Regions from separate parts of the Homo sapiens genome. Here region 2 is linked to region 1. Evidence: fine-mapped expression QTL. A gene starts in region 1. The other region holds a variant in brackets. All regions are shown on one strand. Distances are between the middles of the regions. Region 1 holds the start of ACTR5 (actin related protein 5). Region 2 has its middle 15 kb from the start of PPP1R16B.

Region 1 (5,379 bases):
ATTATAATATTGTAGAATTATGGATGTGGAACTAAGAGATCATCCACCCCAACTCCCTCCAGAAGGTCACAAAGGACACAACTATGGGCAAAGGGACTTACCCAGTCACACAGTGAGGTAGTTCAAAGCTAAGCCCAACGGCTCAGTTCACAGGCTAGTACTTGCTCTTTCTACTCTGCCTTTAAAGCACGCAGTAAATAAATGTTTCCTGAATGCTTCTCAAAATCGCACTCAAATGCCACAAGTGCAACTCACCTCCCTTCTAAGATGGGTAAAACATGCGTACACTGGTATCCAGATGAAATGATTAGCCCACTGCACATCGAGTTCTTTGGCTTATTGTGGTAGAAGCTGAAGAGGCTGTCTATTCCATAGGCAACCTTGGGAATCCCGTAGCACTCAAAAAGAAGCTCAGACATCATTTGCCGTGAATACAGTGGGTTGCACACAGCTTCTGTCAAAACTATGGGATGATCAACACAGCCCTACTTTGAAAGAAAAGGGCAAATAAATGAGTGGTAACAGAATACTCTTTTTGAAGCATAAAAGAACCCAAAATCCTTATTGCAGGACTGAATTTGCTTTTGGCTTCTTAATCAAAAACCTGATCAGAGGCGATTATAAAACTCCCATCTCATCTTTACTTGAAAATACGAAAGTAGAGTCAATTTAAGTTATTAAGTCAAGGTCCCATCCAAACTGTCAGCAAATCGTGTTGGCTCTATCTTCAAAGTATTTCCAGAATCCAACTGCTTCTAATGACATTCCCTGCTATCTGCCTCATCTAAGCCACCATCATCCCTTACCTGGGTTATTCCAACAGCCTCCTAACTCGTCCCTGTTTCCACCCTATGATCCAAGACAATTCATTCTCCATACAGCAGTAATAGTGATCCTTTTAAAACACAAGTCAGGTCCTTCTTCAGCTCAACACCCTGCCATGGCTCCCCATTTCACTCAGTAAAAGCCTATAAGGTGTGTGATCTGCCTCTCCACTACCTCTCTGACATCCTCTTTCAGGTACTACTCTCCCCCTCACACAGGCAGCCTTGCAGTTAGGATTAGGGCACACTCCTGCCTCGGGGCCTTTTTACTGGCTGCTCCCTCTGCCTGGACCGTTTTTCCTTCAGATATTCACATGGCTTGCTACCTGAATCACCTCCTTCAAGTCCTTGCTCAAACATCACCTTCACGAGTCCTACCCTGACCATCTTACTGAAAAAATGTAACTCCCTCCTCTCCTATCACGGCGTAGAATCTACTATTTCTATGTTTACTGTCTGCCTTTTCATACTAGAATATCTTTCCATAGTATTAACAGCTCCATAAGCACAGGAAGTTTTGTGTTCACACATGTACTCCAAATGCCTAAAAAGTGCCTGACACAGAGTAAGTGCTCAATACGTATTTGTTAATAAATGGGCTTCTTAACAAACAAGCATATATGCCCAAAGGTATGCTCCAAGATACAAGGAGCAGCATTTTATTCGCTGCTACACCCACAGCGCCTAGCATCTGGTCGACTAAAAGACAATCGGAGCTACTGAAGTGACTGTTACCTCTCCGAGAGCAGAGTGAGCGGAGACGAGACCGCACCCCTCCCCTCAAACCCAGCCCAGCCCAGCCTACTCCGCCCTTCACCTGTGAGGAGACACCCAGGTGCTGGAAGCTGTAGTCCAGCAGCAACTCCTGAAGCTCCAGGTTGACCGGCACGTTGCGGTCGAAGGGCGAGCGCAGCATCCAGCGCAGTGGCTCCAGGCTGCCCAGAGCGTTCCCCACCTGCGGGCCCGACGCGCCCCGTGCCCCGCCACGACCGCGGGCGCACACCGCGCGGAACTGCAGGCGCGGCTCGGGACCTGGGTCCTGCCCGGGACACGCCCAGCCAGCGCGGACTTGGAACGACCCGTTGTCCAGCACCAGCGGTACCGGCAGTGGCCCGTGTGCCACCGGGCCGGCCTCCAGCACTGGGTCCGGTGCGGCACGGGCGTCGCGGAACGGGAACACGTTCGCCGCCATCTTGGAGCGCGCGTCCAGCCCCGCCCCTCGGCGCAGTGTCCGCCCAGACGCCGCGAAACCGCGCCCCCGACGTCACGCCGCGCGATTCAGGCCTTTAAGTACCTCGATGCCCCCTCCCTTCTCGAAGCCCGGCCAGCCTTTCCACTTGACTCGCCTCTGGCTGTCAAGGCTGCTTTCAGGATCGCTGAGACGTACCCATTCTGGCTGCGAAATTCTACGTTTCTTAACCTCTCCCCCAATAGCCTATGAGTGCCCACGCCCCTTCACTCTAGCCGGGACGCCCGGTTTGGAAGCCCCGCCCCAAAGCCTATCGCCGCCAGGCCCCGCCCCTTTCTGGCTGCCAGCTTCAGCGCCGCGCTCGGTGGAGCCCCGCCTCTCTGCCTGGCCACGCCCCATTGCCGGGCGCGCACCGTCGGCCGGGCGCGCACCGTCGGCCGGGCGCGCACCTTCGACCGCCGGCGGCCCCGCCTCCGCGTGGCTGTCTCGCCCTCAGTCTTGCGTCCTGGCTAGAAGGGTCCTTTATCTTTTGACGCTTCCTTTACGTTAAGAAATCTCAAACTCTGCCGACTGTTCAATTTCTTGACTAGGGAGCTGACTACTCAGTTCTGTTCACTTTACTAACTCGCACAGACTGTGTCTTCTCACTAAGACACAGTGTTTTCTCAAACCCTGAGAAAAGACTGCTGATTGTTCCCCAAGCATTCCCTCTCTTTTAGTGGCATCACCTCCCACTCCCACGTGGCCATCCGTCTGGCTGCGATCTAGATGCGCTCATGTGACTAAATTCTGGCCAGGAGCGGGTGGGAGAGGAGGCCATGTGTGTGACCCACTCAGTTTTAGCCCTAAAAGCACTCGTCGCGCTCTATCCTGTCGCATTTCCATCTTTTCACTAGCTAAGGGGGTAAGAATTAGAGCAGTTGTTTTACTACAACCTTTTTTTGTGCAGTGGGGCGATCTCGGCTCACTGCAGCCTCGACTTCCTGGACTCAAGTGATTCTCCCGCCTCAGCCTCCTAAGTAGCTGAGATTACAGGCGTGCACCACCACGCCCAGCTAATTTTTATATTTTTAGTAGAGAAGGGATTTCACTATGTTGCCCATGCTGGCCATAACCATTTTGAAAGAAGAAAAAGAATAGAGCAGCTGCCTTGAATCTACTCTACCAGGTCTATAACACTTCAGTTTGAGAGATAAAATCAAATTAGTTACAAAAGATATTGTAAGCGAGAAATGAAACTCCTAACTTATCTCAAGAACCTCTATTAACAGTGTTTGTTGTTGTTGTTGTTTGTTTTTTTTAAGACGGAGTCTGGCTCTGTCACCCAGGCTGGAGTGCAGTGGTGTGATCTTGGCTCACTGCAACCTCCACATCCCCGGTTCAAGCAATTCACCTGCCTCAGCCTCCCGAGTAGCTGGGATTACAGGCATGCTCCACAACACCCAGCTAATTTTTTTTATTTTTAATACAGACGGGATTTCGCCACGTTGGCCAGGCTGGTCTCGAACTCCTTGGCTCAAGTGATCCGCCTGCCTCGGCCTCCCAAAGTGCTGGGATTACAGGCTTGAGACGACGGGCCCAGCCTGTTAACACACCTAAACCAGATTGGGAGCCAGCCCAGTGGCAAAAATCAGGTTGTGTTGTCTTTCAACACACGTCCATTGTTCAGATATCTGAAGTAACCATCGTTAAGTTAATTAAGAGGGGGACCAGCAGAACACAGAAACCAGTAAATGTAAGTTAGTGAATGTTAATTTAAGAATTGTGTCTATGTATATTAATATGAAAAAGCACTGGCTGGGCGCAGTGGCTCACACCTGTAATCCCAGCACTTTGGGAGGCCGAGGCTGGTGGATCGCCTGAGGTCGGGAGTTCGAGACCAGCCTGGCCAACATGGTGAAACCCCGTCTCTAGTAAAAATACAAAAATTAGCTGGGCATGGTGGCAGGTGTCTGTAATCCCAGCTACTTGGGAGGCTGAGGCAAGAGAATCGCTTGAACCCTGGAGGCGGAGGTTGCAGTGAGCCGAGATCACGCCAGTGCACTCCAGCCTGAGCAACAAGAGTGAAACTTTGTCTCACAAAAAAGAAAAAAAGAAAAGCACCAAGGTAAATATATATATTATATATATTATTATTTTATATATATATGAGAGGCAACTCCAACGGGGATGGCCAGTGTGGTGGCTCATGCCTGTAATCCCAGCACTTTGGGAGGCTGAGGTGGGAGGACTGCTTTAGCCCAGAAGTTCAAGACCAGCCTCAACCTCACTAGTAGTTGGGACTACAAGTGCACACCACCACATAGAGACAGAGTTTTGCCATGTTGCCCAGGCTGGTCTTTATAAGCGTTTGGCACATGAGGTAGATTGGATTATTATTCCCAGTTCTTCATTCCTTTACTTTTTTTTTCTTCACTCCTTTATAGTAGGATGATACATCCATACCATTTGCCTTGTAACTTTGTAGAGCCTCTCCTTGAGGACACTGATATTAGGCTTGGTCATGTGACTTGCTTTAGCCAATGGACTGTTAACTGAATATGATTGGTTTAGATTGCCTTCTTGCACTCCTGCTTTTAGTCATGAGAGGAACATACCTGAGTCCAAAGAGGATAAGAGATACATGGAGCAGATCTGAACCTAAACTGCAGTCCGAAGCCAAGTCCAGCCAACCTGCAACCTAAAGTTGAGCTGCCCCATGGACCTCTGAACAAGAAAAATGTTTATTCTTATAAACCACTGAAATTCTGGAGTTGCTATGCAGTATTATTGCAGGAGAAAACCGACTAATACACTAGACCAATGCTGTCCAACAGAACTTTGTACATTGGAAATGTGCAAATTGATGGAGATGATCTAGTATCTGTTGTGTCTAACACAGTGGCCAGTAACCACATGTGGCCGCAGAGCACTTGAAATGTGAATAGTGTAACTGAAGAACTGAATTTTTAAAATGTTCTTAATTTTAATTTTTCTTTCTTTCTTTCTTTTTTTTTTTTTTTTGATGGAGTTTCGCTCTTGTCACCCAGGCTGGAGTGAAGTGGCACAATCTCGGCTCACTGTAACCTCTGCCTCCCAGGTTCAAGCGATTCTCCTGCCTCAGCCTCCCGAGTAGCTGGGATTACAGGCATGCACCACCACACCCCGGTAATTTTTGTATTTTCATTAGAGACAGGGTTGCACCATGTTGGCCAGGCTGGTTGTGAATTCCTCACCTCAAGTGATCTGCCCACCTCGGCCTCCTAAAATGCTGGGATTACAGGTGTGAGCCATTGCACCCAGCCTTAATTTTAGTTTAAATTTAAATAGTCATGTAGCTAGTGGCTACTCTATTGCACACTGTAGCACTAGACAAAATCTAGGGCT
Region 2 (5,379 bases), 43 kb before region 1:
GTTTAAGTGAACCTGTGCACTTCAAACCCATGTTGCCTAAGGGTCAACTGTACATAGGCAAAGCCTGAAGTGGAAAGGCAAAATGTTTATCCCCACATGACAGATGGGTTGAAGAGATGCTCCATTTCTGAATTATCAGGGAAATGTAAATAAAACAGATAGGAGGTAGAGGTCACATCCATCGGAAAGGCAAAATAAATATAAATAAAATAGTCTCTCAATACCGCGGTGGGCTAAGACTGTGTAAGTGGAACCCCATGGGGTAGGAGGAACCAAACCCTGGTGCAATCGTTTTGGAGGGAAATTTGGCATTATTTGGGAAAGTTGGGTACTCGCGTCCAGTAATACAGCAGCTCCACATTTAGGAACATCCAGCTAGGAGAAAACCTCCCACCTGTGTAGAAGACATGTCTAAAGATATTCATTAGGCCTTTATCTGCAAAAGGCCAGCAACATCCTAAATGCCTACCAAAGGGGGAATGGATAAATGGATTCAGGAGTGCTTTAATATCGCAGAATTCTAAACAACAGAGAGAATGAACAGAAATAAAGCTGCCTGCATCAACATAGATAAATCTGAAAAAACAAAATGAGTTGGGAAAAAATGCAAGCTGCAAATGAACACTTACAGTGTGATACTTTTATATTTATTTATTTATTTATTTACTTTTGAGATGGAGTTTCACTCTTGTTGCCCAGGCTGGAGTGCAAGGGCACAATATCGGCTCACTGCAACCTTCAACTCCTGGGTTCAAGCGATTCTCTTGCCTCAGCCTCCTGAGTAGCTGCGATTACAGGCACCCACCACCATGTCCAGCTAATTTTTTTTTTGTATTTTTAGTAAAGACGGGGTTTCACCATGTTGGCCAGGCTGGTCTCGAACTCCCGACCTCAGGTGATCCACCCGTCTCAGCCTCCCAAAGTGCTGGGATTACAGGCATGAGCCACTGGGCCCGGCTGATACTTTTATATTTTATAACCACAATAGCATGCATTTGTGATACCCAGATTTGCACTAGAGGCATAATAAATGATAGGCTGGCTGTCTTCACTAGCCCTACAGACCTAAGACTGTGTAAGTGGAACCCATTGGGGTGGGAGGAACCAAACGCTGGTGCAGTTGTTTTGGAGGGAAATTTGGAGGCCTGAGTAGCATACTTCATCTTGCTCTGCACTACTGTGGATGACACCATAGGAATTCCCTTGTCTTCTGGCTTCTTGTAGGAGATAAGAGGGCAGAAGTGAGGCCATGTGAGTTGGCTGTGTCCCTCTACTGAAGGCCACAGCTTCTACTGCTGACCTTCTTCAGGCTTTGGTAGGTGCTCACACCACTTGCCTCAGTTTCCCCATTCATAAAATGGGTATGATAAAAGTAACTATCTCCTAGGTGCATTATGTGGACTAGATAAGCATAGGCACTTGGCGCAGTGCCTGATAGGTTATAAATAACTCAGCAAAAGTTAGCTTTTATTGTTATTAATCACACCCTTTCTCCATTCCTACAAGGAACTCCTTCCCCACTGCCCCCCCTTTTTTTTTTTGAGGCAGAGTTTTGCTCTTGTTGCCCAGGCTGGAGTGCAATGGCACAATCTCGGCTCACTGCAAGCTCCTCCTCCCGGGTTCAAGCAATTCTCCTGCCTCAGCCTCCTGAGTAACTGGGATTACAGGCATGCGCCACCATGGCTGGCTAATTTTGTATTTTTAGTAGAGATGGGGTTTCTCCATGTTGGTCAGGCTGGTCTTGAACTCCCGACCTCAGGTGATCCACCCGCCTCGGCCTCCCAAAGTGCTGGGAATACAGGCGTGAGCCCCCACGCTTGGCCCCTTCCCCCCTTTTTAGACATGAAAATCTCATGGCTTCCCTTAATATTACTTGACATTCCAAAATACAGGTCTGAAAGCAATCCTTTTTCATAAAGCATGGGACTACATGTGCTTAGGAATTTCACAATTTTTTGAATTTTATAAATGCAATGTGGTGGGTGCATAGAGTCTATATCAGTGACTCTCATATGTGAGCGTGAGTCAGAATCTCCAAGAGGGCTTGTTAAAGCACAGAGGGCTGGGCCACACTCACTCCGTAGGTCTGAAGTGGGGCCTGAGAATTTCCATTTCCATTTCCCATTTGATGCCAATGCAGCTGGTCTCAGAACCACACTTTGAGAACTACTGCTATTTTACGACATCCTTAGAGGGGTCTAGAGCAGCACCCCCAAATCAAATATTATTATTTCTACTGTGGGCTGGGCATGGTGGCTCACACCTGTAATCCCAGCACTTTGGGAGGCCGAGGCAGGCAGATCACCTGAGGTCAGGAGTTTGAGACCAGCCTGGCCAACATGGTGAAACCCAGTCTCTACTAAAAATACAAAAATTAGCTGGGTGTGGTGGCGGGTGACTGTAATCCCAGCTACTGGGGAGGCTGAGGCAGGAGAATCACTTGAACCCGGGAGGTGGAGGTTGCAGTGAGCCTAAATCGTGCCATTGCACTCCAGCCTGAGCGACAGAGTGAGACTCCGTCAAAAAAAAAAATTAAAAAAAAAATCTTACTGTGAAATGTTAATGAAAGACTATAAATAGCCTTAAGCCAGTTCGGATTAGATTTAGCTACTGAGTAAGCTTTTATAAACTGATGCAAACGCTTTGAGTTTGCAGAGAATTTTGGATTTTGGAAGAGTGTAAGGGATTGTAGACTTGTAAATGAAATTTCATGACCAAAGATGAAAGCATATTAAAAAAAGTAATTTTCGAATATGCTTTTTAAAACTACACTTGATCCACCACCATCAGGGATTATGAATGTGGAATGAATGAATGAATGTGAATAAACTCTTAAGGAAGAAGAAAGGGCGAAACAGCGGGTCTTGCATAGTTTCTATTGGCCACCA[A/G]GTGGCAGTATCAGGTCTCTCTCAAAGTTCGGGAGTGCTCGGGAGAGGGGCGTTCTACGCTGTTACGTCAAAAACAGAACCAGGCTGTGGGTAGCTGCTCCATCTAGAAGAGCCCTTGGGAGATGCTATTGCTTTGTATCCAACTACTCCAAAACTTAGAGGGGTAAAACAACCATTTCATTATGCTTATGAATTCTGTAGGTCTGAAATTTGGAAAAGGTGAAGCAGGGATAGTTTGTCTTTTCCACATGTCCCGGGCCTCAGGTGGAAATACTTGTTGGCTGGGGGTGACTCACCAGCTGGGGGTGGGGACGTGGAGGGGGGGGTGACTCAATAGCTGGGAGCTGGAATCATCCGGAGGTGTCTTCATTCACCTGTCTGGGTATTGATGATGGCTGTCAGCTGCAACCCCTACCAAGGGTCTCTCTGTGTGGTCTCTCCGTGAAGGCTAGCTCAGGCTTCCTCACAGCATGGGCTAGCCTGGGCTTCCTCACAGCATGGGCTAGCCTGGGCTTCCTCACAGCATGGCAGCTGGGCTAGCTTGGGCTTCCTAGTATGGTTGCTAGGCTAGCTCAGGAACAACATGGCAGCTAGGCTAGCTCAGGCACAGCATGGCTGCTGGGCTAGCTCGGGCTTCCTCATAGCATGGCGGTTGGGCTCAAGTGTGAGTTTCAAGGAGAGGAGAAATAGGACACCCTTTGATGGGAGGGATGTCAAAGTCAATATATTCGTTTGCTAAGGCTGCCATAGCAAAGGACCACAGTCAGGGTGACTTAAGCAACAGAAGTTTATTCCTCAGAGTTGTAGAGGCAAGAAATCCAAGATGGGGTGTGGGCAGAGTTGGTTTCTCCTAAGGACCCCCTCCTGGGCTTGCAGATGGCTGTCTTCTCACTGTGTCCTCACATGGTTCTTCCTCTGTGTGGCACATGCCTGGTGTCTCCTCTTCTTATAAGAACACAGTCATACTGGATTACAGCCCCACCCTAACGCATTCATTTTAACTTAATCACCTCTTTTTTTTTTTTTTTTTTTTTTTTTGTCGAGACAGAGTCTTGCTCTGTTGTCTAGGCTGGAGTGCAGTGGCATGATCTCGGCTCACTGCAACTTCTACCTCCTGGGTTCAAGCGATTCTCCTGCCTCAGCCTCCTGAGTAGCTGTGACTACAGGCACACACCACCACACCCGGCTAATTTCTTTTGTATTTTAGTAGAGATGGGGTTTCACCGTGTTGCCCAGGCTGGTCTCGAACTCCTGAGCTCAGGCAATCTGCCTTCCTCGGCCTCCCAAAGTGCTAGGATTACAGGTGTGAGCCACTGCGTCCGGCCAATCACCTCTTTTAAGGCCCTATCTCCAAATGCAGTCACATTCTGAGGTACTGGACTTCAACGTATATATTTGTGGGAACATGATTCTGCTCCTAACAGCCACATTGTCAGACGATCATGTGATATATAGGCGATATCTGTCTTGGGAAAATGCGGTCTGCCATGGCACCCGTCCTCGAGGCACACTGCACACACCGATGGTGTCGCAGTTGGTCATGCACATCATTCTCAATCCTACCTCCACGCCTTTGGATGCACCGCTCTCTCTGCCTGGGATGCCCTTCCCTGCCCTCCTCTAACAGGCCACTCCTAGTCACCTATCCAGAGCTCTCTGCTCATCCAGAACATCCATGACCCTGCCTCCTGTCACCAATGTCAGGGACCATGATGTTTATCACCACTCTTATCACACTGATCACTAGCACCACCATTTATAGACTGCTGCTTTGTGTCAGGCTAAGCTCTTCTGAGCTCCTTTGATTCTCACAGCAACCCTGTGAGGTCCATTTCACAGATGAAGAAACTGACAGTCAGAGTAGGGGAGTTACTAGCCCAGGACCACAGAAGAAGGAAATGGCAGAGTGAAGACTTGAACCCAGGTCTGCCTGGTTTGAGAGACTGTGTTTGTCACCTCTAGCCACAGGGCCTCTGAAAGCCCTGGCATTGGTTAAGCCCCCTCCTCTGTGCTATGCTAGCCCCTGGTTTAATCCTATCAAAGCACCAATCCCCTCATTAATGCAGGTTGCACCAGCTCTAGTCTCACCTGCCAGGCTCACTTGCTTATGCTTGGGCTGTCCCAGGGAAGGTCTCACCTGAGCTTAGACATAGGCTGAGGGCCAAGCATGCATTGTATATTACATGGCAACGTCATGACATTAATGGAGTCCAATGGACCACACTTCCTGACATCCACGCCTATGCATAGCCCCCTCTCACACTGACTTGGGGCTTGTCCATGTGACTTGCGCTGGCCAGTGGGCCATCAGCAAACATGAGGCAGGCAGGAGCTTGGGATGCTTGTATACACAGGGCCTGGTTCTCTAGGAACACTGTCACCTTGTGAATAAAGTCGGAGTAGACTCCTTAAGGATGAGAGGCTACATGCACGGAATAATCCAGCCACTCAACCTGTTCCAGGAATCCCAGCTGATGCCCCAGACATGTGA

Evidence for each region.
Region 2: its variant is fine-mapped to the expression of ACTR5 in whole blood (TOPMed, PIP above 0.99). The same link has a PIP of 0.9 or more in T cells.

What each region holds. Positions count from the first base shown.
Region 1 is chr20:38,745,116-38,750,494 of GRCh38, reverse strand. It overlaps ACTR5 (actin related protein 5), which reads right to left and starts at 2,035. Exons shown (of 9, transcript NM_024855.4): 1 at 1,642-2,035; 2 at 256-485. The coding sequence starts at 2,016. RefSeq lists silencers at 1,800-1,989, 2,290-2,559 and an enhancer at 1,938-2,439.
Region 2 is chr20:38,788,153-38,793,531 of GRCh38, reverse strand. No RefSeq gene overlaps it. Among named protein-coding and RNA genes, the nearest start is that of PPP1R16B, 15 kb to the left of the region's middle. The variant A/G (reference allele first, on the strand shown) is at 2,889.